Linked DNA regions of Homo sapiens. The protein of the gene in region 4 purifies or fractionates together with the protein of the main gene of each other region. This does not show direct contact. Each region holds a gene or a part of one and is shown on either strand. Other genes may lie near its edges. The genes, in order: THADA, OPA1, FASTKD1 and SCN2B.

Region 1 (7,918 bases), on a different chromosome or scaffold from region 4:
GCTTTATGGAATGAGAGAACAGGTCACAGAACGGCCGTCATGAACAGATGTGGTAGCCCAATTCCATGACCATTCCCACACGCTCCCAAAATCTGGGCTCTTTTTAAAAACGATTTCCCAAACAAAGTTCACCACTTCCCTATGCCTTCTGATGGGAAATTCTACCTTTTTAAGAAGAGAACAGATCTGTTGCCGCACTCCTGGAGACTGGCTGTTAAGATTGTATGTAATAAAGAACTGAATCCACTGCATTTCTTCCATGGAAACAATTTCTGTGCTCCGATTACTTTCACAAAGCAAGCCTAATGTATCTATCCTTACCTAAAAAACATCAAGCAATAAAATGTTAATTTTCCAAGAAATAAGCAAAGCCTAAATCACTTGAATTGCTTACTTACATAGGCTACAAAAGGAAAAAAGTAAACTTCAGTTCACCAATAGGTACCTCAGAAAGGTTTCCTAATCTCAAAGATCCTAGGGTTATTTCCTATACAATTCTTTTATTAAACATGTAAATTGGGGATTTATAAAATGCAACAATCTTAAAGATTTTTATTCCGTGGTAATGCTCAGCTTCATTCCTTTTTCTTTTTTTCCAGTGACCCCTTTTACCCCATCACCTCACTCTTAAATTACTGCCAGACACTTCTAACTGGTTTCCTGGTTTCTTTCTGCTCCCACTCTGGAAACTCACGTTTCCACTAATGTAACTCCTTGCTGAAAACAGAGTAGCTTTGGTTTAGCTTAGTAAAACCAGCTGGTGCCTGGGAACCAACTAAGTCTTTAGCCTAGCATTAGGCCTTTCCAAAAAATGTCCAAAACACTCCACCCCTGATAAGCAATGTTCTTAATCATCCTCCAGACCTTGCTCATTTGGGTCCCTCCATTTTGTATGCTGCTCCAAGGCTTCCTCTTTTCTAATCATATCTATCACTTTCCTAATCAAGCACCACCTGCTCTGATCAGTCTCTTCTGAGCCTTCCAAGCGAGTCCTTATGTATTTAAGGGCACATGATGGCATGCTTGTATCTGTATTGTCAGTTCTAAGAGTTTCCAGTTGTTTTATGTAAGTTTTCTTACATCCTCAACTAAACTTTCAGTAGCTTGAAGAAAGGGCCTACTGAAAGTTTAGTTGGGAGACTAGGGTTTCTACTCATTCTCTTTATGAACTCCCTAAAACAGTTCAGGATACAATGTAGGGGCCTCTATATTGAACTGCTACATGAAAGGGATCTACTGCATGTACAAATCCAGGTAATTTTCTTTACTTACTTGGCAATGCTGATGAATTAAGCCTTGCTTTATTCTTGCATCAGACACGAGGTTCTCCCAGGTATCAGTTGCAGACTGAAGATGTCCATGAGCTCTAGCTATTCGCAGACATGCCATCAAAGCTCCCAGAGCCCCCCTGCTATTACAAGACCCTAAGGATGGGAAAGATTGCTCTTGTCCTGAAAGCACAATAACAAAGACCATTACTGTATTATGCAATGACTACTATAATTATCAGCTGCTAATTTTCATGTTTCCAATTAACATTTTATTTCAATAAATAAAAATCACATTTTAAACTCATTTCTAACACAAATTAAAGTTCCTATTCTAAAATAATCATTATTTAATATGATTTGCCCTTTTGTCAATCATTTCAAGTAAGCATAATTCTCTTATCGTTAACATAAACAAATCATTATTTACCTGCTAACATTTTTGCTTTTTCCCTAACACCTAGAAAGGGAATCAGGCAGCAAATCAGGAAATAAAATCAGGTGGAGAAATAAGCACATCAGTGGCTACAGACTATTACTTCTCTAAAAGTAAACACTGAACCTCTCTGCATATTTTAGAGTGGCTGTTTCTCACTAGTAAAGATTAAAAAAGGAACACAAAGAGCCTGCTGGTTTCAGAGGCTAGGACGTCAGCCATTACCAAGAAGACAGGGCAGCTTGATATAAAAATAAAGACAACCTTACTTCAGAACAGATTCTTGAATCCTGAATTTCAGATGGCTTTTCAAAAACTCAAGAACAAGTGTTGTCAAAAATTACAAATAATGGCTTATTTTTGCATACAGGAATCAAATTTTCCTGCTACCTCATGGTTACTCTTTGAAGTACTGAACGTTTTTAACAATTTTAGTTGAAAATATTTCTTAAAATTATGCTGTACGATACTACATTCTTGCTTTGTTAAACAGAATGTAATAATTTTAAGATTTATATGATGTGTCATGATCATCACTTTACACATCCTGAATTATGCTTGAATGCAGTGATTCCTGTAGGGTTTGTGAGTTTCAATGGGATGTTTACCCCTATTCTAAATAACTATAGATGGCTATTTCTTGAGATCATGCCTCTGAATTTTGTCACTTCCCCAGAGAAAAAAACTTGCTACTGCCAAGTTACCTGTCTTTAACCTTGCCTAACACAATTTTTAATTATTGTCTCAATGACTTGAATAAGCACATTATATAAGACACACAAACTTTTATTTCAGTGATACAATAAAATAAATTCAGAACTTGAAAAAATGAATTAAAACCTTGTAATACAGGAAAGTTTATCATTTTAAGTGGAATTATTCTTTAGCTTGTAGAAATGACTTCAGCCAAAAAACTCCATTCAGCTATATATAGGAACATTCGTTTCAAACTGAAACATCTATCATTAATCTCTTCCTTTACTATTTATAGAAGTGATATTTAAATTTGAATATGATTAGTATCTGCATAGCTACCTACATTTAAGCATCATAATTAGAAACTACTAAAACAAAAATGCATTTTTCTTACCAGTTTTAGCATCAATAGAAGTCTGAAGAATCTTTACCATGTACTGTAAGCTTTCAGGGCTGTAACTTAATAATTTTGGCAAGTAATAATCAATCACGTAAGATTTTTGATCCAAGTTTCCTTCACACAATATAAAAAGGAGAGGAGAAACCCAAGTCTCATGCCACTGGTCAATCCAAGAACTCTCAGCAGTCTGGGATTTCAAATGACTCTTATGATTTCTAAACATGGTTTCCAAGAGGTCACTTGCATAAGGTACCAATGACTGGTCTCCCATCACCTCTAAGATTTGAGATGGAATAGTTTTATCTATAGCCAAAATATGTTCAACTCCTATGCACTCTACCAAACAACCAAGGCACGTGTACTTTCCTTTAATATGCCATTCCAATCGTAAAAGACTCTCAGTCAATTCCACAAAGAAAGGATCAGGGACGAAATCTGCACCTTCCACAGTGAGCCGGTGCATTTGGAGAAGGTTTTTGAACATGATTTTGGTTTGGTGTCTCAGAGCATCCAATGGATGTTCCCAATGGGTATAGACATATTCCAAAAGTCTCCCAACTATACTTGAATTCCCATTCAGGCTGTCCGTTAGGCTCGGGGAACTTGATTCAAGGACTTGTATGGCTGAATTAGTCCAGGATGCTAAGATTCTAGACAGAAACATTTCCAGCGTTGGCTCTTTAATCCTGAAGAAAAATGAGCCATGAGCCATTATTGTAAACTGATTAGTAAAAGAAATTTCATTTTATAACAATTTAGACTTTAAAAATATTAAATACACAGAATGACCACAAATTTCAATTATTAAATTTACAAGAACAAAAAACTACAAGTAAAGCCAAAACAGATCTCAAATTTGTATATGATTCTTTTTACCTTGTAAAAAATAATCCAGAAAGCAGTTCAAGATCAGCCTAGGCAATATAGTGAAACCCCATCTCTATAAAAAATTTAAAAATTTAGCTGGGTGTGGTGACACACACCTACAGTCCCAGCTACTTGGGAAGCTGAGGTGGGAGGATTGCTTGAGCTCAGGAGTGAGACTGCAATGAGCTGTGCTCATGCCACTACACTCCAGCCTGGGTGACAAAGCGAGACTTTGTCTCAAAAATAATAATAGTCCAGGAAGGGACATAGGGAAATTTGGGGGATGATGGAAATATTCACTACCTTGACTGTGATGATTACACAAGTTATTTATTTATTTATTTATTTGAGACAGGGTCTTGCTGTCACCCAGGCTGGAGTGCAGTGGTGCGATCTCGGCTCACTGCAACCCCTGCCTCCCAGGTTCAAGCGATTCTCCTGCCTCAGCCGCCTCAGTAGCTGGGATTACAGGCGCATGCCCCCATGCCTAGATAATTTTTTGTATTTTTAGTAGAGACAGGGTTTCACCATGTTGACCAGGCTGGTCTTGAACTCCTGACCTCAAGTGATCCACCTGCCTGAGATCTGCAAGCCTGGGATTACAGGCTTGAGCCACCATGCCCGGCCTACACATGTAATTTAAAAGATAAGGAAAGCCAAGTGTTGGAGATGGTTGGGGGAATGGGGCTTCTCTGTGATAAAAATATTCTAAAGTTGTTTGAATTAACTTTTAAGATGTTAAAACTTCATTTCAGAAATGTTGATAAGGATCACTTTAGATTACCTATGTTAAAGTGCTTCATAAATTCTAAAGCACTACACATGTAGAAACTTTTATAGTTTTAAAAAATGATGCTAAAAACAAATTTCAGGAAAAAAATTTTTAAAGAAAAAATATAGCAAAGAGAATATTAAAAATTAATTTTAGAAATGCTGGTGGTTGTACAACTCTGTGAATAAACTAATAAACTGAATTGTACACTTCAAATTTATGAATTGCATAATATAGCTCAAATATGTAAAAAATTATTTTAGTTTTCCTCCTTTATTCATATGTTCAGTATTATCAAGCTGTATATATGTTTCGACATTTCATATACATGATCACTTTCAGCCATTATGGCAAAAACACCACAAAAATACAAAATACAGCCCCATGAAGTCAGAAGACCTTCTAAGATTGCTGTTTCAGGTTCTTATTAGCAATATGGTCTCAGGTAAGCATTTACTTTTCTAAGCCTCCCTTTGCCCATTCAACAAATTAGATTTCTTATCCTATATAGTAGCCATTTGAGGATCACATTAGATTACCTATGTTGAAGTTCTTTATAAATTCTAAAACACTATACATATAAAAATTTTTATAGTTTTTAAAAACGATAACATTGAAAATGTTAAAAATTAATTTTAGAAATGTTCTTTACAGGCTAACCTGCAGCAATAATTTTATTTATTTATTTTTTTAAGACAGGATCTCACTCTGTCGCCCAGGCTTGAGTGCAGTGGCACAATCATATCTCACTGCATCCTCGGCCTCCTGGGCTCAAGCAATGTTCTCACCTCAGCCTCCCACGTAGCTGAGACTACAGGCGCATGCCACCACACCCAGCTAAGTTTTAAAAGTTTTGTACAGACACAGTCTCACTATGTCACCAAGGCTGGTTTTGAACTCCTGGCCTCAAGTGATCCTCTTGCCTCAGCCTACTGGGAGGGTAGCTGGGATTAGAGGCACAAGCCACTCCAGCTTTTGGACTGCATCTTCTAAATGTCTTACAAGTGAAACAAAATATGAGACGATAGCATCAAAACTCACTGTGAACTCAAGGTGAACAAAACATGTGCAGTATCCAAGAGCAGGGCCTCCCCACTCCGACCCATGCTTCCGTTCTGCCAGTCCAACATGGCAAGTGTCCCCTGACAGAGGAATAAGACAGCTGACTGAGAGATGTCACCACAACAGAGGCTCCTGCAGCTGCTCATAAACCACTCGGGGACACTGGTGCAGTCCACTGAACGAAGCAGCACACTGCTAATCTGGAAAAATATAGCAGAGCTAACACACATAAAGCTTTTAAAACTTTTCAGAGATATTTCAAAATACAAACCCAAACATCTCTTTCCCCTGAAAAATCCTAGGAAAAATGACTAAATCCAAAGATAAAATACCCACAAATGTCATGATTATTGTATTAGTATTAAAGGAAAAAAATTACATCAAGTACGAGAATGATTTTGCTGGTTGGAATGTACTGGCAGAGCACAACACATCGCCACCTGCAGGTGGATAAGCTTAACAACTGCTTTTTTTTTTTGGTATGTATTTTTTTTTTAAACAAATGCTTTTAGAGGTGATTTGAGAAATAAACATCTTCGACTTATCCAAAGATAATTACTTTGTGTGATCTCATAATATATTTTTCTAAGGTCAGGTAAAAAGATAAAATAAGTTTCCATACAATATAGCAAGCAAAAAAAGAAATCTACTAGTAAAAAATACAAGGATTGTGGCCTAAATTATCAAATTATACTTTCTGTAAGAAGCAAATTTACTGAACAATTGACTCTATCTAGCATGCTTCCTGTCTAAAGCACATGATTTGGGTTATTCTCAATAAAGAATACATTTATCAGAAAAGTTATTACTGTGTATATATCTATACATTGATATGCATAATTTTAACATTAAAAATATCTTTTAAGATACTAATGAGAGATGACACTGAACAAACAGCACTAAAAAGAAACTAAAAGAATGTACATCAAAAATGTTTATAGTGATTATCTTTGTGAGATGGACTTACAGGTGACTGTTATTGTCTTTTTGTTATTGTTGCTTTATCTGAATTTTTGGAATTGTCTCTTATTATAACAGAAAAAGGTCATCAGAAGGAACCAGACAATGCAAAAAAAAATTATTTTAATTCACTTCTTTAAAAATATTTTTAATTTTTTTTTTTTTTAAGAGACAAGGTCTCACTCTGTTGCCCAGACTGGTGCAATCTTATCTCACTGCAGCCTTAAACTCCTAGGCTCAAGCGATCCTCCTACCTCAACCTCTCAAAGAGCTGGGACTACAGCTGTGCACCACCATACCCAGCAAATTTTCTTTTTTTTTTTTTGTAGAGACAAGGTCTAGCTAAACTCCCCAGGCTAATCTCAAACTCCTGGCCTCAAGTGACCCTCCTGCCCTGGCCTCCCAAAGTGTTGGGATTATAAGTGTGAGCCACTGCACCAAGCCAAAATTATTTTTTAAACATACCCTAACTCTCAATAAAGTACAATTCTAAAAAGGAGATGCACTTACCAAATGAGGAATCTTTTCAGACGGGTGAAACATAGTCTTAATAAAAAGAATAATAGCTAATCCAGATGTGCTCTGTACAGTCTGTAACAGATCATCTATTTGGCAAAAAAGGAGAGAAGCTTGTGTTAAATAATGAATATTCTGGTAGAGTGGAAAGAGCAGATGCTGAGCAGCCAGATAGGCCTGGGTACAATTTCTAGTCTGACCACTTCCTGGGTGAATAGGTCTTACCTAAGTTATTTAACATCCCACAGACTCTCTTTTCTCTTGGGTAAAATGGGATAACTCTTAACTGAGGCAGTGTCAGGTTTAGATGAATAATGAACATAAACGCTTTTTAGAAGGAGTCTCACTCTGTTGACAGGCTGGAGTGTAGTAGCGTGACCTCAGCTCACTGCAACCTCTACTTCCTGGGTTCAGGCGATTCTCCTGCCTCAGCCTCCCAAGTAGCTGGGACTACAGGCGCGTGCCACCACACCCAGCTAATTTTTGTATCTTTAGTAGAGATGGGGTTTCACCACGTTGGCCATGATGGTCTCGATCTCTTGACCTTGTGATCCGCCTGCCTCGGCCTCCCAAAGTGTTGGGATTACAGGCATGAGCCACTGTGCCCGGCTGAATATAAAGGCTTTTAAGCCCAGCATATAGATACTCAATAAACGTGATTCCTTCCTCTCTCCTCTAACATACACTTTCTTCCTCGCCAACTATTGCTTCCCAAAACACCTAACAGCAACACCACCTGTCCCCTCCCCTCCACCAATGCCTCTGTATCCCAATCACCATATACACAGACTTTTTCAAAAAGAGATTTCAGGGCTTGTATAAAGAATGTAGGTAAGTGCTAATTACAAACTTTGCTAGCACTGACACTGTACCCATAGCAACCAAACAGTTTTGACTTGGTATCTTCTTTTTGTTTTATCTCTATTAGCCTCTAATACCAT
Region 2 (7,918 bases), on a different chromosome or scaffold from region 4:
CTGAACTAGGAAGGGCTTTTCTAATTTTCTCTGGAAAAGATCAAAACATATAGAGTATGAAACTAAGAAAATATGTCAGATACTATTCTTATAAAGGGCTAAAGTATTAACTTGTTTAATCCTCATGACAACCCTACAAAACAGCTACTATTATCAACACCATTTACAGATGAGAAACTAAGGTACACAGCAAGGAAGTGGAGGAGCCCGGGTTCCAGCCCAGGCAGTCCAGCTCCAGAATACAGGCTCTCAGCCACTACGCTGTGGTACTGGCAAATACATCAATTTGAAAGCTCTCCTCATTAATATTAGAAGAACAATTTGAAAGTGTGCTTTTTTTGCAAATGGATTCGTCAACATAGAACAGTTTTATCTTTATAAATTCTGTGAATAAGTGCAAGTATAGATTAATTCCACCTCCACATACACCTAAACTAAGAAATCTGACAAAGGTTTTAAAAAAATTTGATGAAAATATATTTCTTAAAGATCACCATGAATTACTGGCAATCATAGCGATCCAATATACTTTTTTCTCATCCACCTATTGAAAAAGGGAGGGCAGTGGCCAACTAAGAAAAGAAATTACCCTGGATACTAACAGACTTTTAAAGAACTTGGCTACAAAAGGTAGAGATAACCAAGGTATCCAATCAAAAGGAGCTAGCTAGGTGGGTCACAATAAATATGCTCTGGGCAACATTACATAATGCAGAAAATGATATTATTAATAGAAAGGCTACTTGGCAGCATGGAAATGCTGACAAAATATGTTAGGTAGCAAAAGACAAAATACCAAAGTGAATATTCACCATGATTACATAATTTTTAAAAAGGGAACTAAAATACTATTCTGTGGTAGTATTCATGAAAAGAAAAAAATTAAAAGAAAAAAACTCAAGCCAGGCATAGTGGCTCACACTTGTAATCTCAGTGCTTTGAGAGGCTGAGGTGAGAGGTTTGAGCTAAGGAATTTGAGACTAGCCTGGGCAACATAGTGAGACTTCATCTCTACAAGAAATTAAAAAATCAGTCGGGCATGGTGGCACACACATGTAGTCCCGGCTACTTGGGAGGCAGAGTCGGAAGGACTACTTTAGCCAGTTCAGGGCTGCAGTGAGTTATGATTCCAAGACCGCACTTCAGCCTGAGTGACAGAGCAAGATCCTGTCTCAATCGATAAGTTAAAAAGATACTAACCACATATAGTAAGTATAATTAAAAGAAAATGCTCCAAACAGTTAGTGGCAGCTGTGGTAAAATTATGGGCTACTGGGTATTTCTTTTATACAGATTTTTTCATTGATATTCTATTACTTATATCATTAAAATAAAACCGTGATATATTAGGTTCATAAGTTAAGAAACTATCTCAATAAACTATTTCTCTTTCCTCGAGATGACCAAAAAAAGTATTTTAATGTTCATGATACAAACCAAAATCGATATACTCATCAATTTCCCACACAATGTCAGGCACAATCCATTTATATTCACTAAGGTCCGGTATCATATCTTTCCACTGATCAAAAGTCTAAAAGACAAGAAAGTGTGTCAATCAGATGCTCTGCATGCCAAATAAACATGTAAAGAAAAATTATTTAATTAAAACACATTAATCTACTAAGAATAATGTATTATGTTCAAAACTTTTAAGAAACAAAATTAAGTGGTCTCAGCAAACAAGCATATAAAACAAGTTAACACTCCTCTGTTAAATATGGAAAATGTAAAAATTCAGAATATACTCCTATTTCAAACAGGTTTCATAATTTTGCCCTAAATATTACTGTGGGGTAGAAGGAAGACAGACTGGGAGACAGGACGCCTTGCCTCTGGTCCCAGACCTGCCAAGAAGTGCTTGTGTGAGAATGCCACCTGACTTTCACATCTGTGCTACTAAATGTCTAAGCTCAAAATCAAACCTAGGTGTTCCTATTCCCAGCCCTGTGCTCCTTCCACTAGGCCATTTTAATTTCCTGTAATTATAACTAAGATTCTAAAGGCATCTTCCTATTAGCATCATTAAAACAATCTAGTCCATGGTAGAGACACAAAATAAATGTTTAAACATCCAATTGTATTCCACTACACAAAAATGATTTATGCTATAGAAACTTAATCATGATATAATAATTGGAAAACCAGGAGGAATGTCAAGTTCACCTTTTTGGCTGTGTAGCCACCCCCAACAGCCGATCCTAGTATGAGATAGCGAAGTTTTAAGAGTCTCGTAGCTAATCTTGCTGGCCAAAAATTCCTGCGAGGCTGGTAGCCATATTTAATTGGAGAGAATTTCAGTTTACGTAAAGGAAGGTTTGTCAGAGAAGAGAACTGCTGAAAGGATGTCCTTAATTGGGGTCGTTGAAGCTTTAAGGTAGGATGATGTGAATGATAAATGCTTCGTGAAACCAGATGTAGTTTTTGTAGTGGTAAACTTCCTTTTATTCCAGAGCTGTGTTTCACTAAAGACTGGCAGACCTCACTGAAAGAAAAATGAATATGGAAGAAAGATCAGAGAGGGTAACAGTACAAAGGAAATGACATTAAAAGAGCAATATACTAAAGGAAACACAGCCCCATACGTGACTAACCACAATGTCACACAATAGTTCACATTTACTAACCATTGACTATGTGCCAGACATGGTTACAGTATGTGCTATCTCATTTAATCCTGCTAACAATCCCATGTAGAAAGTACTAGTATTATCCTCATTTTACAGATGAGGAAAATGTGGTGCAAAGACTTAAATAACTTGCCCAAAGTCACACTGACATAAGAAACAAAGGCATGATTCAAACCAAAGCAGTGGGACTCCACTCTAATATGTGGGCTATGATCCTGGTCTCAGGAATTGAAACCAAAGAGAGAAAAGGCAGGGACTTATTTTATTAACTACTATTCACTGTAAGTAAAAGTTGAAAACAAAAATGCATGCAAACTTTTGCTTTCAAAAACAAAATTTCTAGCAGTTTAGAACACCTTCATCTATGTCTCCCGATCCTGACAGCACAGGGGTGGAAATTAAGGAAGTTAATCAATCCCAACTCAAGCACCTGGATCCCCAGAAGAATGAAAGTAGCAAAAAAGCTCGAAAGGGAACAGAATTTAAATGTACACATTGACTGTAGAGCTCCACCCTCTTCTTCTTCCTGAAGAGAATGAAAGGTTACCAACAACCATATCTTAACATACACTCATAGTTGCATACATAGTTGCTTGCTTACTATTAGTTGCTTACTAATAATCAGGGCCAGTCTGATTCTAAGTAGTTAAAAAATATTAATTCCTTTAATTACAAGGGACTGGAAACTTCTTAAGAAGGAGGCAGGGTGTGGTGGCTCACACCTGTAATCCCAGCACTTTGGGAGGCTGAGGTGGGTGAATCACCTGAGGTCAGGAGTTCAAGACCAGCCTGGCCAACATGGTGAAACCCCATCCCTACTAAAAATACAAAAATTAGCTGAGTGTGTTGGTGTGTGCCTGTAATCCCAGCTATTCAGGAGGCTGAGGCAGGAGAATCACTTGAACCCAGGAGGCAGAGGTTGCAGTAAGCTGAGATCACACCACTGCACTCCAGCCTGGGCAACAGAGTGAGACTCCACCTCCAAAAAAAAACAAACAAACAAACAAAAAAAAAACAAAGAAGGAGGAGGAGGAATCAAGGAAGACAGGAGCAATGCTGTGAAGAATGGTATGGGGATATGGGAAAAGCGGTATCTCTTGTGTTCCTATACATACCAGACATTACGCTAGCTGTTTTCACTACAGCATAACTATATAAATGTTAACTCTCAGAAACACCGAGTAAGGTTAAGTATCCTTATTTTACAAATTTTTTTTTTAAGTATTGTTAAAGCAAACTAAATATGGCCTGAGAAGGACTCCATACTTCTATATTTGTGTTCTTGTGGACAAACCATAACCTAGCACAATAGGCAGACAAAATGGAAAACCTGAGTAGTATGCATCTGTAATAATAGCTGAGTGTTGGCCAATCCCAGTGGCCATACTTCAAGCACTAATAGACTGCTAAGTGTTCAAACTGCATTCAATTCTGGAGGCTGCCTGATTTGCAAAGTGTTTATTTTCCTTGCTTAATTAAACTCCATCAAATTTAACTTGTCTGAAGTTTTCTTTTAACAGATCTGGTGTCAGAAGTGGGATTTGAAGAAAAACTCTGGCAACCCCCTGGAACACCAGGTGACCTGGTGAGGTACCCACTGAGGCCGTTGCTCTCACTGGTCTCTTGATTGTAACTGGAGGTCATGGGTGAGTTTTCTCTCAGATTCCGAGCTCCACTAACTTGTGTTTTGAGCTCTCCGAGTTTACTCAAGCAATACTTAGCCTGGACTGGATCCAAGATCAAATTGGATTTGATAATTAACTGGATTGGATTCAGTTAGAGGCCTCAGACCTCTGATAAGTACCTTATTTAATAATGGGATCATCTCAATCCAAGGAGTCTGGGACTCCATCTTCAGGGACTCCAGCTAATTTTACGTATAAAAATTATGGGCCCAGAACATGTGCATTTTCAGTAAAATGGGTTAACCTCACTAAAGAAAACTTAGAATTAAAATGGCCACAATGGAGAAGTTTTAATTTGGATAAAATTGTTTGCAAGGCATATTAGAAAAAGGGGATCAAAGCCCCCACAAATACAGTGGGATGTATTGTCTCATGGATACGCAAAGGCCTCCAAAAGACTAAGTGAATCAAAAAGTGCCTCCTTAAAAGATTCTTTGCAAAAACCAAATGAAAAGCTTAAGCAACAGACCAAGGACATGAAGAAAGAGGACTGTACTTTGACTGATCTAACTCGGACTGTTCCTTCTTTGTCCATCTCTACCTACATACTCTGAGTCCACTAAACTTTTTGTTAAATTACACTTTCACCCTGAAGATGATTTAAAAAAAAAAAAAAAAAAAAAAGGAAGTTAGACAGATGTCTTACAAAGTGAGACCTTATATCAGCCAGGCCTGCCTGCTGTAACTACTTTCACTCCATGGTCTAAAACTGAGCTTAGCCCCATTGTGAAGGACTTCCCTGGTCCAAGGGAAAAGTCTCAAAAATTTACTGAGGAATTTAGAATCCTAATAGGAGCTTACGATCCAGGACTTCATGAATTTACCAATTTATTCATATGATACTGGGGGCTGGTGAAGCTCAGAAATGGATGGCAGCAGCAGAATGGGACAAACCTGAGGAGGACATTTTAAAGGGCCCTCTAAGAGCTCCTCACAAGAAGGACCAAAAATAGCTAGAAAAATCGCTGAAAACCTTTTAACATTCAGTTCCTAAAATTTTTCCACAAAAAATTGGTCCATCATACAATCTTGTAAGCAAAAAAAAAAGAAAAGAAAAGATGAACCAGTTTCAGATTACAGAAGTCGCTTAGAAATATTTGTGAAACATCCTGGGCTCAAAGTACAGCAAGGAGTATTCCCTGCAGGGGCTGAAACAGCATTAACTGCTTTACTTATAAATGGACTCCATCCTGAACTTAGCAGTTTAACTAAAAAACATAAGTTGCAATGGGAAGTTAGAGATGTGACTGAATTGGTGGCCTTAGCTGAACTTTTTTTTTTTTTTTTTTTTTTTTTGAGGTGGAGTCTTGCTCTGTCACCCAGGCTAGAGTGTAGTGGCGCAATCTCGGCTCACTGCAACCTCTGCCTCCCAGGTTCAAGCAATTCTCTTGCCTCAGCCTCCCGAGTAGCTGCGACTACAGGCGTGTGCCACCATGCCCAGCTAATCTGTGTATTTTTAGTAGAGATGGGATTTCACCATCTTAGCCAGGATGGTCTTGATCTCCTGACCTCGTGATCCTCCCACCTTGGCCTTCCAAAGTGCTGGGATTACAGGCGTGAGCCATCGTGCCCAACCTAGCTAAGCATTTTGAGAAGACTCTAGAGCAAAAAAAACCTCAAAAGGCTAATAAGCTTATGCCCCTTCAATTGCAACAGTTACAGGGACCAGGAACCAAAGGGACCATCTCGTTCTCATTTTAAATCACAATCGGGCGGTTCCAAGATGGCCAAATAGGAACAGCTCCAGTCTACAGCTCCCAGCTTGAGCGACGCAGAAAACGGGTGATTTCTGCATTTCCAACTGAGGTACTGGGTTCATCTCACTGGGGATTGTCAGACAGTGGGTGCAGGACAGTGGGTGCAGCGCACCGAGCATGAGCCAAAGCAGGGCGAGGCATCGCCTCACCCAGGAAGCACAAGGGGTCAGGGAATTCCCTTTCCTAGCCAAGGAAAGGGGTGACAGACAGCACCTGGAAAATTGGGTCACTCCCACCCTAATACTGCGCTTTTCCGATGGTCTTAGCAAACAGCACACCAGGAGACTATATCCCGCGCCTGGCTCAGCGGGTCCTATGCCCATGGAGCCTCGCTCATTGCTAGCACAGCAGTCTGAGATCAAACTGCAAGGTGGCAGCGAGGCTGGGGGAGGGGTGCCCGCCATTGCGGAGGCTTGAGCAGGTAAAAAAAGCAGCTGGGAAGCTCGAACTGGGTGGAGCCCACTGCAGCTCAAGGAGGCCTGCCTTCCTCTGTAGACTCCACCTCTGCAGGCAGGGCATAGCCGAACAAAAGGCAGCAGAAACCTCTGCAGACTTAAATGTCCCTGTCTGACAGCTTGGAAGAGAGCAGTGGTTCTCCCAGCACACAGCTTGAGATCTGAGAACAGACAGACTGCCTCCTCAAGTGGGTCCCTGACCCCCGAATAGCCTAACTGGGAGGCACCCCCCAGTAGGGGCAGACTGACACCTCACATGGCCGGGTACCCCTCTGAGACAAAACTTCCAGAGGAACGATCAGGCAGCAACATCTGCTGTTCACCAATATTCGTTGTTCTGCAGCCTCCGCTGCTGATACCCAGGCAAACATGGTCTGGAGTGGACCTCCAGCAAACTCCAATAGACCTGCAGCTGAGGGTCCTGACTGTTAGAAGGAAAACTAACAAACAGAAAGGACATCCACACCAAAAACCCATCTGTACATCACCATCATCAAAGACCAAAGGTAGACAAAACCACAAAGATGGGGAAGAAACAGAGCAAAAATACTGAAAATTCTAAAAATCAGAGCACCTCTCCTCCTCCAAAGGAATGCAGCTCCTCACCAGCAACGGAACAAAGCTGGACAGAGAATGACTTTGACGAGCTGAGAGAAGAAGACTTCAGACAATCAAACTATCCAAGCTAAAGGAGGAAGTTCGAACCCATGGCAAAGAAGTTAAAAACCTTGAAAAAAATTCGACGAACGGCTAACTAGAATAACTAATGCAGAGAAGTCCTTAAAGGACCTGATGGAGCTGAAAACCAAGGCACGAGAACTACGTGACGGATGCACAAGCCTCAGTAGCCGATTCGATCAACTGGAAGAAAGGGTATCAGTGATGGAAGATCAAATCAATGAAATGAAGCGGGAAGAGAAGTTTAGAGAAAAAAGAATAAAAAGAAACGAACAAAGCCTCCAAGAAATATGGGACTATGTGAAAAGACCAAATCTACGTCTGATTGGTGTACCTGAAAGTGACGGGAAGAATGGAACCAAGTTGGAAAACACTCTGCAGGATATTATCCAGGAGAACTTCCCCAATCTAGCAAGGCAGGCCAACATTCAAATTCAGGAAACACAGAGAATGCCACAAAGATACTCCTCGAAAAGAGCAACTCCAAGACACATAATTGTCAGATTCACCAAAGTTGAAATGAAGGAAAAAATGTTAATGGCAGCTAGAGAGAAAGGTCAGGTTACCCACAAAGGGAAGCCCATCAGACCAACAGCTGATCTCTCGGCAGAAACTCTACACGCCAGAAGAGAGTGGAGGCCAATATTCAACATTCTTAAAGAAAAGAATTTTCAACCCAGAATTTCATATCCAGCCAAACTAAGCTTCATAAG
Region 3 (8,544 bases), on a different chromosome or scaffold from region 4:
TCATTTTTTCTTCACAAATCCCAAAACTGGAATGTAATATTTCTTAACATTTATCTCTGAGTTTTTCCACTGACACCAAGGAAGCCCTTCTTTACGTAATACCTATCAACCATCCACATAATTTGTATAACATTGTTATCAAATATAAATGAATCTACAAAATCATTTTATTTCTTTTTCCTTTTAAGGGCTATTATTGAGAAACAACCTATTGTACCAATACCCCCTAGAAAACATATGTGCCGTCCATTTAATTACAATAACGAGATTGCAAACAAGTTATCACAGACAAAATTTACTAATTGCTGATTGTTATTAGGCATTACTTTTTTTTTTTTTTTTTGGAGACAGCGTCTCACTCTGTCGCCCAGAATGGAGTAGAGTAGCATGATCTGTGCTCACTGCAACCTCTACCACGTGAATTCAAGAGATTCTCCTGCCTCAGCCTCCAGAGTAGCTGGGATTCCAGGTGCCTGCCATCACGCCCAGCTAATTTTTGTATTTTTAGTAGAGGCAGGGTTTCACCATGTTGGCCAGGCTGGTCTTGAACTCCTGACCTCAGGTGATCCACCCACCTCAGCCTCCCAAAGTGCTGGGATTACAAGTGTGAGTCACCACACCCGACTGGCATTAATCTTAAATCTAACTGCTTACCTACTATATCCTCATCTGCAGCCAACCACATTTTCACAAAACTCCACAATAATCCAATTTCAAATGCCCACAGTTAACAATAGTATTACAGTTGTTAAAGGAGAATTGCTTGAACCTGGGAGGCGGAGGTTGCAGTGAGCCAAGATTGTGCCACTGTACTCCAGCCTGGTGACAGAGCAAGACTCCGCCTCAAAACAAAACAAAACAAAACAAAAAAATTAGATTATCAGGAAAACTACTGGTGAAAAAAATTATTTTTCATTTTGAAGAGATTTTTAGACCTGGCACAGTGGCTCACGCCTGTAATCCCAGCATTTTGGGAGGCCGAGGCATGCGGATCACAAGGTCAGGAGATCAAGACCATCCTGGCTAACATGGTGAAACCCCGTCTCTACTAAAAATACAAAAAAATTAGCCGGGCGTGGTGGCAGGCGCCTGTAGTCCCATTGACTCGGAAGGCTGAGGCAGGAGAATGGCGTGAACCTGGGAGGCAGAGCTTGCAGTGAGCCGAGATCATGCCACTGCACTCCAGCCTGGGCGACAGAGACTCCTCAAAAATAAATAAATAAAATGAAAATAAAGAGATTTTTAGAAAATTAAAATGTAAACTATATAATCATTCCATAAAATATAAAAGTAAATTACTTACTGTTGTGTGACGTATAACACATTCACCAGGGTATCGTCATTCATTAATTTGAATTTATTTGTAGCTAAATTATGAAGAGTAAGAAATTGAGGATGGTCTCTGACATACTCAGCATTTTTTAACAGGCTGGTCTTCTGCTTTTGAAGCTTCCAAAGCATATCAAATGCACATCCCACTTGCTTTTCTGAAAGTATGGCTTTGTTTCTTTCAATAAAACCAAACATTTGCTCCTCATCTGTACACTTATTCATCTGAATAATTAGTGGTTCACAACTGATGGGTCGAAATTGAAACACTCTCCAGGAGAATGGACAAATAGCTCTTAGACGAAGCATATTTGTAACCAATGACTCTAGGAAAACAGGTGTTTTTTTCATTTATATCACAAGTTTTCTTAGGTAAACAAAACCATCTGCAACTAGTCGTCAGGTGCAATAAGCAGGGATACAAATAACAGTTTTTCCTTCATGTATTTTGCTTCCATTACAATGACTGTAAACGCATTCCAATGTACAGCTTCTATAAAAGAATTGGTTTAACATGGTTATGCTTACATCATTAATATCAAAATGATTCCAAAATTCAAATTAAAGTAATACATTTTTTCTGCATTAACTAAAGACTTTTTCTTAGTCTAAACCAGATAGCAGAATTTGATCAAAAAATAAATGTCCAGAAAAAGGGGCTTCTTTCTGCACCCCATTTTAAAAGTGTTTTAAATCTGACATTTACATAAAGTTTTCAAATTTACCATAAAAGGAAAAAAAAAGCCCACAAACTCAGAGCTGTCTTTTCGAAAAAGAGGAAAATTGTTTAAAATAAATAATCACCTTCAAAGTTTCTAAAAAGTGTAGGCATTAATTCAGAGCCATATATATTTATACATACATATATATATACTTTTTTTTTTTAATTTTTCAGAAGTATGGTCTCAGGTTTATTTGCTTTCAGGATAATTTCTTGCCCCTTTTTCTTGTGCCCTTAAAGAGCTCAAATAATTCCTTTCTTTAGAAAATAAATAAATAAAAGAAGTCATATAATTTAATCATTACTGGCCTTGGATAGGTTTTAACCAATGAACGACACAATTAAAGCACCAATCAAGAAATACTAAGAAATTAAGTAATGTTTCAAGTCATGCTGAAACAATAAAAGAACTAAAGATAATTATGAAAAAAGAATAATTTGTTTTAAAAATATGCTATAAATGTTTACATTTATAATTGAGAAGTAATGGTTAGAAAAGCAGGGACTAAAGTCATATAATCTAATATTTCTGCAACATGTTACCATTTACAAAGAACGTTTGAAACACATTATCTCATTAAATTCTCTCAGCTAACCTTCCAGGTTGATATTATTTCCATTTTACAGATAAGGCAAAATAGGTTCAAAAAGGTTTAAAAAATCCTTCTAGTACTAGTGAAGCAGGGACTACAACTCAGTTCTTTCCACTTGAACAGCTTCATTACACAAACAAATCAACGCTGTATCACTAAATTCATGTCTCAGACCCCTCTCTACGGCTATGCCAAACAGTCTGTTCACAAGAAAAAACGACGCGACAGTACAGGCTATTTTGTGGCAAGCAGTACAGCATCCTGACCTAAGCTGACCTGGGTCACAAACCTGCACAAGAAAACCCTGCACAAATCAAAGGTATCCTCAAGATACTATATTCATCCACTGAGCTGCTCAAAGTGGAGGCAGCTCAATGGTTAGCATAGAAAGGTGTCGAGTCCCCAGCTTTGCCCCAGCTGAATGACCTTAAGGAAGGAACTTAACTACAGGAAGGGCCTTGGGACCCTAAGGGGTATCTTCTGCGCCGGGCATAAAGGAGAGCTAAACAAATGAGTGAATGAATGGGGTCTCAGCCCTGCCCTAGTCCATCCGCACTTCAGAGAACCCAATATCCCGAAGGAAGCCTCCGTATCTCAACTGAACCCTATGTCCCCAGCCCGAAAACGTGCTGGGTGGGAAAAGAAAAATAGCCGCTGCCACACAGTCCCGACTTGCCAGCAAGGTTTTCCCTCAGCGCGCCGCAAATTTTCTGGAGGATCCTGGGGTTATGAAAGCTCAGAAGTCAGGGTTATTCCTGGTCCCAACACGGAACGAAACAGGCTCGGATGTCTCGCCCAACCCTCATATCTCAGGGTTTATAACCTTTCTTCGAGAGACATGACCTTTCCCATGAGACCTTGCCCCCAAACCAGGAAAAAATGCCCGGCAGGCGCAGCGTGCACTGCGGAAGTCACGCACTACATATCCCAGGGTGGGTCGCGGCGAGGTGGGTGAAATGGACGTCGCTCACGCATTTTGGGGGAATTCTGGGCATTGTAGTTCCTCATTGAGGGAGGCTCTAGCGCAGTACACAGCTTAAGCTGTTGAAGAAGATATAGGTCGTTTAGGTGATTCTCTACTATCTAAGGTTGTTCTCCTAGTCCTTGGAAGTCTACTACTTTTATAATATACACAAAAATATACTTAGGAAAATGAAATTTAAAAATGTAAACATGGAAAAGACACGTACAGATTTTTCTTATTATTTTTTAGCATATACGAAATAACTCTGTCGAGTAACTTTGAAAGTATGCAAACTCATACTCTCAGTTTCTGCACTTATGTCGTGGATAGGTACCAGTTCTCAGACCATATTTTTTTTTTACTTACCATGGTATTTTAATAGTCCCAAGATTTGACACTTGACACTTAAAAAAAAAATACCACTAATAAATAACCAAAGTGGAATGCTTACCAAAGTTACAACAGACATAATTTTCAGCTGATAATCACTACAACAAAGTAAGGCTCTAAAGGTACCAAACTGATATTTGTTGGAATATGCTGTGCAACTTTCTTTTTTTTATTTTATTTATTTATTTTTTTTATTGATCATTCTTGGGTGTTTCTCGCAGAGGGGGATTTGGCAGGGTCGTAGGACAATAGTGGAGGGAAGGTCAGCAGATAAACAAGTGAACAAAGGTCTCTGGTTTTCCTAGGCAGAGGACCCTGCGGCCTTCTGCAGTGTTTGTGTCCCTGAGTACTTGAGATTAGGGAGTGGTGATGACTCTTAAGGAGCATGCTGCCTTCAACCATCTGTTTAACAAAGCACATCTTGCACCGCCCTTAATCCATTTAACCCTGAGTGGACACAGCACATGTTTCAGAGAGCACAGGGTTGGGGGTAAGGTCATAGATCAACAGGATAAGAATTTTTCTTAGTACAGAACAAAATGAAAAGTCTCCCATGTCTACTTCTTTCTACACAGACACAGCAACTTTCCGATTTCTCAATCTTTTCCCCACCTTTCCCCCTTTTCTATTCCATAAAACCGCCATTGTCATCATGGCCCGTTCTCAATGAGCTGTTGGGTACACCTCCCAGACGGGGTGGTGGCCGGGCAGAGGGGCTCCTCACTTCCCAGTAGGGGTGGCCGGGCAGAGGCGCCCCTCACCTCCCGGACAGGGCGGCTGGCGGGGCGGGGGGCTGACCCCCCCACCTCCCTCCCGGACGGGGCGGCTGGCCGGGCGGGGGGCTGACCCCCCCACCTCCCTCCCGGGCAGGTCGGCTGGCCGGGCGGGGGGCTGACCGCCCCCACCTCCCTCCCGGGCGGGGCGGCTGGCTGGGCGGGGAGCTGACCGCCCCCACCTCCCTCCCGGACGGGGCGGCTGGCCGGGCGGGGGGCTGACCCCCCCACCTCCCTCCCGGGCGGGGCGGCTGGCCTGGCGGGGGCTGACCCCCACCTCCCTCCCGGAGAGGGTGGCTGCCGGGTGGAGACGCTCCTCACTTCCCTGACGGGGCGGCTGCTGGGCGGAGGGGCTCCTCACTTCTCAGACGGGGCGGCTGCCGGGCGGAGGGTCTCCTCACTTCTCAGACGGGGCGGCCGGGCAGAGACGGTCCTCACTTCCCAGACGGGGTCGCGGCCGGGCAGAGGTGCTCCTCACATCCCAGACGGGGCGGTGGGGCAGAGGCGCTCCCCACATCTCAGACGATGGGCGGCTGGGCAGAGACGCTCCTCACTTCCTAGATGGGATGGCGGCCAGGCAGAGACGCTCCTCACTTCCCAAACGGGGTGGCGGCCGGGCAGAGGCTGCAATCTCGGCACTTTGGGAGGCCAAGGCAGGCGGCTGGGAGGTGGAGGTTGTAGCGAGCCGAGATCACGCCACTGCACTTCAGCCTGGGCACCATTGAGCACTGAGTGAACGAGACTCCGTCTGCAATCCCGGCACCTCGGGAGGCCAAGGCTGGCGGATCACTCGCGGTTAGGAGCTGGAGACCAGCCCCGCCAACACAGCAAAACCCCATCTCCACCAAAAAAATACGAAAACCAGTCAGGCGTGGCAGCGCGCAGGCACTTGGCAGGCTGAGGCAGGAGAATCAGGCAGGGAGGTTGCAGTGAGCCGAGATGGCAGCAGCACAGTCCAGCTTCGGCTCGGCATCAGAGGGAGACCGTGGAAAGAGAGGGAGAGGGAGACCGTGAGGGAGAGGGAGAGGGAGACCGTGGGGAGAGGGAGAGGGAGAGGGAGAGGGGGCAACTTTCTTATTGTGTGGGTTACAGAGGAGACTCTTGGTTTATGTGGTCATGGTTATTGTCATAAAACCAGTTTTAGCACAATTTTCTTTTCTTTTCTTTTTTGAGACAGGGTCTCACTCTGTCTCCCAGGTTGGAGTGCAGTAGTGCAATCTCCGCTCACTACAACCTCCGCCTCTTGGGTATAAGCGATTCTCCTGCCTCAACCTCCCGAGTAGCTGGGACTACAGGTGCACACCACCATAGCTGGCTAACTTTTTGTAGTTTTGGTAGCGACAGGGTTTCCCCACGTTGCCCAGGGTGGTCTCGAACTCCTGGGCCCAAGCAATCCACCCACCTCAGCCTCCCAAAGTGCTTGGGATTAGAGGCATGAACCACCTTGCCCAGCCTAAATTTTCAATAGTTCTGACAGTCTATGCAAAATGTTGAGGCATGCTCACACTGGAAAAAAATTAAAACTTGAAGACTTCCTTCTAGAATGTCCAGTAACCAATATATATTTATTCTGACATTTCTGAAAACAGAGCAAAACGAAATTGAATAGGTGCTGGCATTCATCTGATGTATCAGGTTTATTTTATGACTGACTAGTCTTAATACTCCTAGATGTCGGGGTGTATAGGCAGCAGAACATTTTAAATTTGTTCAAGTAGAATATGGGAAAAATTAGAGTCAAATGAGAATACATTTTTTGTCTACTGTCAGTAACCTTCAATTAACCATGAAGACATAGGGAATGAATGGTTAAGCCATCAAAACTAAAATAGTTGTTTGTTTGTTTTTTCGAGATGGAGTCTCAGTCTGTCACCCAGCCTGGAGGGCAGTGGCCCAATCTCAGCACACTGCAATCTCCACCTCCTGGGTTCAAGCAATTCTTCTGCCTCAACCTCCCAAGTAGCTGGGACTACAGGCATGCACCACCATGCCCAGCTAATTTTTGTATTTTTAGTAGAGAAGGTGTTTCACCATGTTGGTCAAGCTGGTCTCAAACTCCTGACCTCAAGTGATCCCCCAGCCTTGGCCTCTCAAAGTACTTGGATGACAGGCGTGAGCCACTGCACCTGGCCTGATTGGATTTCTTCACTAAAAACTTGATTGGTCATTTGACTTCCTTTATCAGGAGGCTGCTAAGACATAGAAAGTCTCTGATAGCTGGGTCTTAAAAAAAAAAGAAAAAAGAAAAAAAGAAGTTAACTTTCGTTTCAAGTCTTGTAAAATTTCCTAGCTTTCTTAGGTTGCCAATATTTACATTGGGGAATACGGTCTACTTCACTTTTTGGTTTGGAGATGAACATTTACTCATTAAAAAATTGTTTCCCTCAACCAAAGAGCCGTGGTTTTGAGATCTGATACCAATGATGTCCTCGTGAGTTTTATTGCTCTTCTTCTCAAGTTTTTTTTCTCAATTAAAGGTACAGCCAATCCCATGGCTTGCTTGGTGATTTGTAGCATCTCTGCAATGCACCAAGGGGTATTTTTTCCATCATCTTCGGGATTGCGAATTATAGATCTCAATGTGTGGAAATAGCCACCTGCTTCTTGATGTCTGCAGTGCAATCGCAAGAGCAATAGGTTCAGGACCTATTCCTATGTTTTCTAGGTCTTCTAGACTTAGCCACTGACACTGGTTTACTTTATCAACTTCATCCTCTTAAGAGGTCACAAAGTAGGCAGAGTTAGAAAGCAGCAACAGCACATCACATCTCTGTGAGTAGCACCAAGGAGGGTGCACTCTGAAAACTGTTGCTTTAGCCAAGCCATAAAAATTACAACACAGGCTGGGTGTGGTGGCTCACGCCTGTAATCCCAGCACTTTGGGAGGCTGAGGTGGATGGATCACAAGGCCAGGAGTTTGAGACCAGCCTGGTCAATATGGTGAAACCCCATCTCTACTAAAAAAAATACAAAAATTAGCCGGGCATGGTAGTGCATGCCTGAAGTCCCAGCTACTTGGGAGGCTGAAGCAGAAGAATCAATTGAACCCGGGAGGCGGAGGTTGCAGTGAGCCGAGATGGCACCATTGCACTCCAGCCTGGGCGACAGAGCAAGACTCTGTCTCAACAACGACAACAAAAAAATTACACCACAATACATTTTAATATGAAATAAATTCTACTCCTACTAATTAGTGTTACTTTCATCTTAGCTTCCAATTTTTGCATTAATATTTACATCAGCCAGGCCAGGAACCGTGGCTCACACCTGTAATCCCAGCAGTTTGGGAGGCTGAAGCAGGCAGATCACCTGAGGTTGGGAGTTCTAGACCAGCCTGGCCAACACGGCAAAACCCTGTCTCTACTGAAAAATACAAAAAAAAAAAAAAATTAGCCGGGAGTGGTGACACGCACCTGTAGTCCCAGCTACTCAGGAGGCTAAGGCAGAAGAATCGCTTGAACCTGGGAGGCGGAGGTTGCAGTGAGCCGAGATTGCACCACTGCACTTCAGCCTGGGCAACAGAGTGAGACTCTGTCTCAAAAAAAAAAAAAAATTACATCAGTCAAACATGATCCTTAGTCAAAAATATGTCATTAACAAAAAGCACTTGGCACTTAACAGATGGTTGAAAAATGTCACCCTCCCCATCCTCATTTTTTCTAAAATCTTAGCTGCGGTAAATACTTAATTGTCCTCCCCATCCACCTTTCAGGGGGTGGGAGGTAAATCACATTTAATGTGAACAAGAGACAAAAAGAAAAACCCTTTAGGTAC
Region 4 (7,883 bases):
TCTCCATGCCTTTGCACGTATTTTTGCTTCAGGTTGAGAAGCTCATTTGCCCTCCTGCCCCTGGGCCCCTCCTACTTATTCTTCAGGTCCCAGCTTACAGGGCATTAGCCTCGGTGACTGTTTCCCCATTGTCCTTGTCCTCACCCCAGCCCTGTTCCTATCTCTTCCACATGACTTGAGGGCAGAATGGCAGGATAGTTAACCTCCCAGTGCCTCAGTTTCCTCATCTGTAATATAGGGGACAATAAGCCCAACTTCATAGGGCTGTCGAAGGATTAAATGACTTACTACCTGTATGAAGCTCAGCACAGTGCCTAGCACATGGCCTGGACAAAAGTCAGCTGCGACTATGATGAGCATTATTGCTATTATTGTTGCCATACATACAATGTTGTCTTGTTATTATTTGTTCATGGGCCTGTTTCCCTCTAGAGGCTCCGGGGAACTGACTCCTATTCATCTTGGTATCCCTGGCACCCAGGACAGTGTGTGGCAGAGTGGGGACTCAATAAAGTCTACTAAAGGAAGAAGAGACAGCTTTCTCTCCATGTCTGGGTCCCCACCACCACAAGCAGCAGATATGTGCAGTGGGCTAGAGTGAGGACTAGACTTCACTTTCTTTCTTTCTTTCTTTCTTTCTTTTTTTAAGAGACAGGGTTTGGTTCTGCTGCCCACGCTGGAGTGCAGAGGCATGATCACGGCTCACTGCAGCCTGGAACTCTTGATACTCCTTCTTCAGCCTCCTGGAACAGTTAGGACTACAGGTACATGCCACCATGCCTGGCTTATTTTTCTTTTCTTTTTTTTTTTTTTTTTTTTTTTTTTTTTGTAGAGACAGGGTCTTGCTATGTTGTCCAGGCTGGTCTCCAATTCCTGGCCTCAAGCGATCCTCCCACCTCGGCCTCCCAAAGCACTGGGATACAGGCGTGAGCCACCATGCTCAGCCCAGACTCCACTTTCTATGCCTCCACTAACATAATCCATACATTGGTAAGCAGGCCAGTGACTGTGGAGTCAACGGTCTCAAGAAAAACTTGAGGGAAGCCCAGTCATTTGAATTGTTTCTGGCTAAAACTAGCCTCATATGCTTCTGCCGTGGGTAGAGCTGGTTGCCCACCTGCCCTTTCTCTTTGCCACCTCCATAGTCATCCCCACAAGCCCAGCCCCGACAGAGTCCCCTCCCTCGTCACTTGTGGCATCCTCCATCCTGGGGATCGATGCTACTGCAACACCACCAAAGTTCCACTGTCAACTCGGCCCTCAGCATTGGAGTGCCAGGGACATGCCTCATTACAGCACCAATCAAGTTCAAGTTCAAGGTCCCCATTCCTGCATCCTCTCCCACTCAGCTTTGCAGAAGCTTTAGCTTCCTCCCACTACCATCTCCCCACCCCAAACACTCAGACCTCTTCATCGCAGACTCCCTCTTCCTCACCCTAGCCCAGAGCTCTGGGTCCTGGTCACTGAGCCCCCTTTCTATCTTTACTTAGCCATGGCTCTCACCAGGCGGCTTCTCTCCTGCACGAAGTGCTTCCTAACTCCTGAGGAAAGGGTCCTGTCCTCCAGCTGGGCCTCCTTACAACAGGCCACTCACCCAACTCCCCTTCTTTCAGCCTGTCCTGAGACTCTGATCAATTAGGTACTGTTAATATAGCAGTGCCATTTCTTGAACATTGGGGAGTGGAATCCAACGTTTAAGAGAATGTGCTGAAGTCAGACACAGGGAGTTCAAATTTCAGCTCCCGTTACCATAGTCATCTGTTTCCTCCCTGTAACCTGAGTATAATAGAATCTACCTCCGATTGCTGTGAGGGCTAAACAAGATACACAGTGCCTGGGCTCACGAAAAGCATTCTTATGTTAGCCATCGTTGAGTTCCTGCCATGCACCAAATCACAAACACGTCAGGCAGTAGGCATTCTTTAGTTTACCCGGGAGGGAACTGAAGCTCAGAGGGGTTGAGTAACTTGCCTGTGATCATTACGTAAATGACAAAGGTGGCTTGAAACCCAGGTCCTGCCAGAGATTCCATAGCATTCCTGCTCTGATGTTAATATGCCAAGTAACTCAGCAAAGCAGGCTGGCAGGGCCTCTGCACTGTCTGTGTTTAGCACTCCTACTCCAAACCCAGCACATCACACCACAGAAAGAGAGAGAGCCTTTGTGGTGGGGAATAGTTCCATCAACAGTCCTTGGACTTGACTCTCAGTTGCTGCTCCAGCAATAAGTAAGTTTAGGAGCAAGAATGAAACTCTACAAAGCAGGCTTGCAAATAACTTTCTAGCCCACTTCCCCACCAGGAAGTCTCTGAGTGGTCAAATACAAACACTTGACAGGACAGTCTGCAAGACTGGGCTGGGCAGTTCTGAGGCTGGATTTAAAGGGCTGCAACCTCGCTCAGCCTGTGGGTTCCATTTTTTTCCTGAATCTCTACACCTGGCCCTTCCTCCATTCCATCCGGCCCAAGCCAAAGGTGCCTTCTCCATCAGTGCGTGCCTCAGCAGGTCTCCTCCCAACCCAGACATCATTCCCCAAGCCCGCTTCCCACCTACTCCCACACACGTTCCAACAGATCAGTGAGACCGAGTGCCAAGAAGCCAGACCCAGACTCAACTTTCTGCCACCAGCTCCCCTGCACACTCTCCTAATACCCTAAATCCACCAGGATCAAGCTTCTGAAAAGAAGCCCCTTAAGGGAGCATTAAGTCCCAGGACCCCGCATTTGCAGCAACTCCAAAAAATAATCCCTGAAGAGACTGCAGGTCAATCCACTCTCTGCCCCACCGCCACGTAGGTCCACTTAGGGGAAATCCAGAGAAGATTCACCTCCCTTGACAATTGTCAGCCCCCAGCAACACTCAGATCCCCTGACCCAACATTTCTGTGACTAAGTAGTCCCAGGGTTCTGCACTCCCCAGCAACGTCCCTTCCAGTCCCCAGCACCTCCCCTCCCAAGGACACAGAGGGAAAGCGCTAGCAATGTCTTCTTTCCTATCCCCTGCCCCCATCCTCTTCACATTGCGGCTACACTTCTGAACCCTCGGGAGCATGCAGATGTGTCTAACTTACCCAAAGAGAAAAAGAGACTGAGCCCCGTGAGGCTGAAGGCAGGGCGAGGTAGCCAGGCATCTCTGTGCATTTTCAGAGACTGAGATGTTAGTCGGGTGGGCTACGGGAGAGGGTGATTTGAGGGGGCGAGAACTACAAGGGAGGAATGGTTGGATGCTAAAAAAAAATGCACGGATGTACTTCAAAGACATATACAACATTAAGGAAGCTTTATTTCCATCTCTCTAATATGGCCGGCTTGTATGTTGCTGCTAAAAAGAGAGAGAGAGGGAGTGTGTAAAGGAGAGAGAGAGAGATGGGGGGGAGAGAAAAGGGGGATGGGGTAAATATTGTGGTTGGTGGATTTCAAAAAGCAGGTGGGAGGGCATAAAAAAGTCATTTTGAAAAGAACAAAATCCCAGAAATTTTTACCCTCTAAAACAAGAAATAATACAAACCCTGCTTTTTGACTTCACTGGGATGATTGTTGGATTTTGAAAGCTATTAGAGGAATCCATTTATTTTAAAGATTCTGGAAAGGGAAACACCTTTTATCATTTAAAAACACCCCCAGGCTGACGCAGTGGCTCACACCTGTAATTCCAGCACTTTGGGAGGCCGGATGGATTGCTTGAGTCCAGGAGTTCAAGACCAGCCTGGGCAACATGGCAAAACCCATCTCTACTAAAAATACAAAATTTAGCCAGGCATAATGTCGCATGCCTCTTGTCCCAGCTACTGCACCGCACTCCAGCCTGGGCCCTGCCTCCAGAGGGAAAAAAAAAAAAAAAACCTAAAAAAAAAAAGGAGATGCTTGTTTTTGTGTTATTGAAAAGGGTTCAGGAAAGTGAGTTGGAGAGACTTTCAAGGGGTAATGCTTTCCTCATTCTAGCGTTTCCTCTGAAAACAGAACATGTTGAAGCAGGCTGATAGAAAAATACCCAAGAGATCTTACAATTGAATGTAACACAGGCCTTTGGATAAACCTGATTCAAACAAATCAACAGGAAAGAAAAGTTTTTGAGACAATTGGGAAAAGTTAAATATGAACTACATAGTAGATTGTATTAATGAATCATTCTTAATTTTGTTGGGTCTGATAAAATGTGGTTTTGTCCTTTAACATCTCTATCTGTTAAAGACACACATGGGTGGCCGGGCGGGGTGGCTCACACCTGTAATCCCAGCACTTTGGGAGGCCGAGGCAGGCAGATCACCTGAGGTCAGGAGTTCGAGACCAGCCTCCCTAACATGGTGAAACCCTGTCTCTACTAAAAATACAAAAGTTAGCCGGGTGTGGTGGCGTGTGCCTGTAATCCCAGCTACTTGGGGGGACTGAGGCAGGAGAATTGCTTGAACCTGGGAGGCGGAGGTTGCAGTGAGTCGAGATCACTCCGCTACATCCCAGCCTGGGCCACAGAGTGAGACTCCATCTCAAAAATACATATATATATATTCAACGAAAAAAAGAGATGGGAGAATAGGTGACACGAGACTAGTTGTTTTGCTTGATAATTGAAACTAGCTGGTGATGGGTGTAAAGGGTTTGTCATATAGTTCTCTCTTCTTTTGTGTATGTTTAAAACTTTTCTTTTGAAGAAGGAAGAAAAAATAAGCTAACGTCATAAGTAGGAGAACTTGGTGGGTGGAGTCCAAGGTGGTCCTAAGCAGAGGTGACCCCCATACTCCTGGGGAGATGGTTAAGTAGGGCAGAGATTCGCATGCAGCAGTCACCTGCATTTGTGATGGGCCCTTTGTGTACCAAACAGGGAGCAACTAATATTTTTGAGCATAAACTCTGTGCCAAGCACTTTACATGTGATATCTCAATTTTTTATTTTTTTATTTTATTATTTTTTTTTAGACAGGGTCTCGCTCTGTCACCCAGGCTGCAGTGCAGTGGTGCAATCTCAGCTCACTGCAATCTCTGCCTTCTGGGTTCAAGCAATTCCTGTGTCTCAGCCTCAAGAGTAGCTGGAACTACATGCACGTGCCACCACCCCCAGCTAATTTTTTTGTATTTTTAGTAGAGGCAGGGTTTCACCATGTTGGCCAGGCTGGTCTCGAACTCCTGACCTCAAGTGTTCCACCTGCATCAGCCTCCCAAAGTGCTGGGAGTACAAGCGTGAGCCACCATGCTCAGCCTGTGGTATCTCAGTTTAATCTTTTCTTTTTTTGTGTGTGAGATGGAGTCCCGCTCTCTCTCCCAGGCTGGAGTGCAGTGGCGCGATCTTGGCTCACTGCAACCTCCACCTCCCAGGTTCAAGCAATTCTCCTGCCTCAGCCTCCCAAGTAGCTGGGATTACAGATGCCTGCCACCATGCTTGGCTAATTTTTGTATTTTTAGTACAGACAGAGTTTCACCATCTTGTCCATGCTAGTCTTGAACTCCTGACCTCGTGATCCACCGACCTTAGCCTCCCAAAGTGCTGGGATTACAGGTGTGAGCCACCGCGCCCCCACCCTGTCAGTTTAATCTTAACCCTGGGATAGGTGATTTCTTTTTCCTTTTTCTTTTTTTTTAATTTATTTATTTTATTATTATTATTATTATTATTATTTTTTTTTTTTTTTTTTTTTTTTTTTTTTTGCGATGGAATCTCACTCTGTGGCCCAGGCTGAAGTGCAGTGGCATGATCTTGGCTCACTGCAACCTCCGCTTCCCGGGTTCAAGTGATTCTCCTGCCTCAGCCTCCTGAGTAGTTGGGTTTACAGGTTCCCGCCACCATAATTTCTTTTTTCTTTTTCTTTTTCTCTTTATTCTTTTGTTGTTGTTGTTCAGACAGAGGCTTACTCTGTGGCCCAGGCTGGAGTGCAGTGGCACAATCTTGGCTCACTGCAACCTCCACCTCCCAAGTTCACGTGATTCTCCTGCCTCAGCCTCCTAAGTAGCTGGGATTACAGGCTCCTGCCACCACGCCCAGCTAATTTTTGTATTTTTAGTGCAGACAGGGTTTCACTATGTTGGCCAAGCTGGTCTCGAACTCCTGGATTCAAGTGATCTTCCCGCGTTGGCCTCCCAAAGTGCTGGGATTATAGGCATGAGTCGCTGCACCTGGCCTTTATTCTTTTTTTTTTTTTTTTTTTTTTTTTTTTTTTTTTTTAAGACGGAGTCTCACTCAGCTGCTTAGGCTGAGGTGCAGTGGTGTGATCTCGGCTCACTGCAACCAGCGTCTCCCAGGTTCAAGCAATTTTCCCTTCTCAGCCTCTTAAGTAGCTGGGATTACAGGCACCCATCATCATGCCTGGCTAAGTTTTGTATTTTTAGTAGAGACGGGGTTTCACCATGTTGTCCAGGCTGGTCTCGAACTCCTGACCTCAGGTGCTCTGCCCACCTTGGCCTCCGAAGGTGCTAGGATTACAGGCATATGCCACTGCGCCCGGCCTATTCTTTTTCTAGTGGCAAATGAGGAAACAGAGGTTCATGGGGCTCAACCCACCCAAGTTTACATATGAGAGTTTAAGGGCAGAGTCAGGATTCAAACCAAGGTCTTCGTGAAACTCTGGGTGTCTCCAGCATTCCACATTGCTTAGCACCAAGGGAAGGATAAATGGAGCTACCTCCAGGTTGTCTAGAAAGGCACAGGGAAGAGAAGACCAACAAGACACATGAAGCAATTAGCCCCTGCAGGTGACATAAAAGCAAGGGCTAAGAGGCAGGCTATGGAGAAACAGTGAGAATCCAGCACAGTGCCTGGCTCAGGGCAGAAACTTCGTCAGCAGACGGTGAATGACTGTACAGGGGCACACCTGAGTGAATTAATGAATCTGGAGAGCTAAGGGAGGAAAGTAGACACTGCGGAGGAAATGAAATCCTTCCAAGGCCTCTCAAGCTGTTCTGGGCTGGGGAGGAGCAAGGGGGCCAGGGATTTGAGGCAGAGTTGCCAGAAGGCAGAAGGGTGGGTAGTCTAAGAGCCCTTTGTGGTTGTCCCTGCCCAGATCACACACAGATTCTGTCCCCAAGTGCCTCTGTCCCATCCCTAGGGTCTGGCTCTGGCTGGCCCATTCACAAAACACAGGGCCCACAGGGCAGAATTGCAGGGAAGGAGAGGTGGGGCAGCCTGGAAGAAAAGTCTCCTTCAGTGGCCATGCCTGGCCCCATCCCCAGTGCCCTCCGGCCCTGAGGTCTACCCCGCTGTCAGCAGCTCACAGCTGTGCCCGGAGGGGTGGACTGGCACAAGCCGGGCCTCAGCTCCCGCTTAGGCGTGCACTGCCAAGTCCCACTCTGCAGCACAGCCATCCATGCTGCCGCAGACACATGTCAGCTCTGCCCCGTTGCCAGAGATTTTTGGTTTGACGTAGCCGGCCTCCTCTTTTTTTCTTAATGCAGCAGAGGGTGCCCGTGAGGCCCAGAAACTGAAGGAAGCTGCTTGCCTGTCTCACTTGGTCTCACATTAGGTCCAGAAGCTCCTATTTTGGGGGCATCTGAGGCAAGAAGTGGATCCAGAAGATCTGTTTCTATCCAGAATTCAGCAAAGAGAAACTACGTATCCAGACTTAGAACAGTCTTCATCCAACTCAGCCCCCCAGGACCAAGGGTCAGGAGGAGCTAGATCAAGGGTGAGGGGCAGTAGCAGGCAGAGCCAAGGCAAGAGAGGGGGAGAGCTACCCCGGAACTTCCCCACAACCCACTTGGGCCTCCAGACACCCATCTGCTCCGAAAGAGTAAGCCTTCCCCAGGAGCCAGTGAAAGTCTGGGAAGCAGCAGCTCTAAGAGGTGTTTTGCCGAATGAAGACACCAGTGTCAAAGATGTGCTTTTTTAGGAGTGAAGCCCTGTGGTTTTGGCATTTGTGCCCAGGGTTATTTATCAGTGAAGGTTTTATTAGACAGCTCT

What was found.
Region 1: the proteins of SCN2B (region 4) and THADA purify together in Homo sapiens (affinity purification with mass spectrometry; 4 studies listed by BioGRID and IntAct, with this or other methods). This does not show direct contact.
Region 2: the proteins of SCN2B (region 4) and OPA1 purify together in Homo sapiens (affinity purification with mass spectrometry; 4 studies listed by BioGRID and IntAct, with this or other methods). This does not show direct contact.
Region 3: the proteins of SCN2B (region 4) and FASTKD1 purify together in Homo sapiens (affinity purification with mass spectrometry; 4 studies listed by BioGRID and IntAct, with this or other methods). This does not show direct contact.

What each region holds. Positions count from the first base shown.
Region 1 is NC_000002.12:43,571,542-43,579,459, forward strand, and holds part of THADA (tRNA (32-2'-O)-methyltransferase regulator THADA), read right to left. Parts: intron 7,067-7,918; coding exon 6,972-7,066; intron 5,702-6,971; coding exon 5,481-5,701; intron 3,487-5,480; coding exon 2,795-3,486; intron 1,452-2,794; coding exon 1,273-1,451; intron 322-1,272; coding exon 166-321; intron 1-165. UniProt on the Homo sapiens protein: Together with methyltransferase FTSJ1, methylates the 2'-O-ribose of nucleotides at position 32 of the anticodon loop of substrate tRNAs.
Region 2 is NC_000003.12:193,609,290-193,617,207, reverse strand, and holds part of OPA1 (dynamin-like GTPase OPA1, mitochondrial), read right to left. Parts: intron 2,486-7,918; coding exon 2,167-2,485; intron 1,535-2,166; coding exon 1,438-1,534; intron 31-1,437; coding exon 1-30. UniProt on the Homo sapiens protein: Dynamin-related GTPase that is essential for normal mitochondrial morphology by mediating fusion of the mitochondrial inner membranes, regulating cristae morphology and maintaining respiratory chain function.
Region 3 is NC_000002.12:169,570,350-169,578,893, forward strand, and holds the start of FASTKD1 (FAST kinase domain-containing protein 1, mitochondrial), read right to left. Parts: upstream 3,517-8,544; 5' UTR 3,320-3,516; exon of another isoform or gene 2,647-3,319; intron 1,823-2,646; 5' UTR 1,681-1,822; coding exon 1,304-1,680; intron 820-1,303; exon of another isoform or gene 655-819; intron 1-654. UniProt on the Homo sapiens protein: Involved in the down-regulation of mitochondrial MT-ND3 mRNA levels which leads to decreased respiratory complex I abundance and activity.
Region 4 is NC_000011.10:118,173,293-118,181,175, forward strand, and holds the start of SCN2B (sodium channel regulatory subunit beta-2 precursor), read right to left. Parts: upstream 3,348-7,883; 5' UTR 3,140-3,347; coding exon 3,070-3,139; intron 1-3,069. UniProt on the Homo sapiens protein: Regulatory subunit of multiple voltage-gated sodium (Nav) channels directly mediating the depolarization of excitable membranes.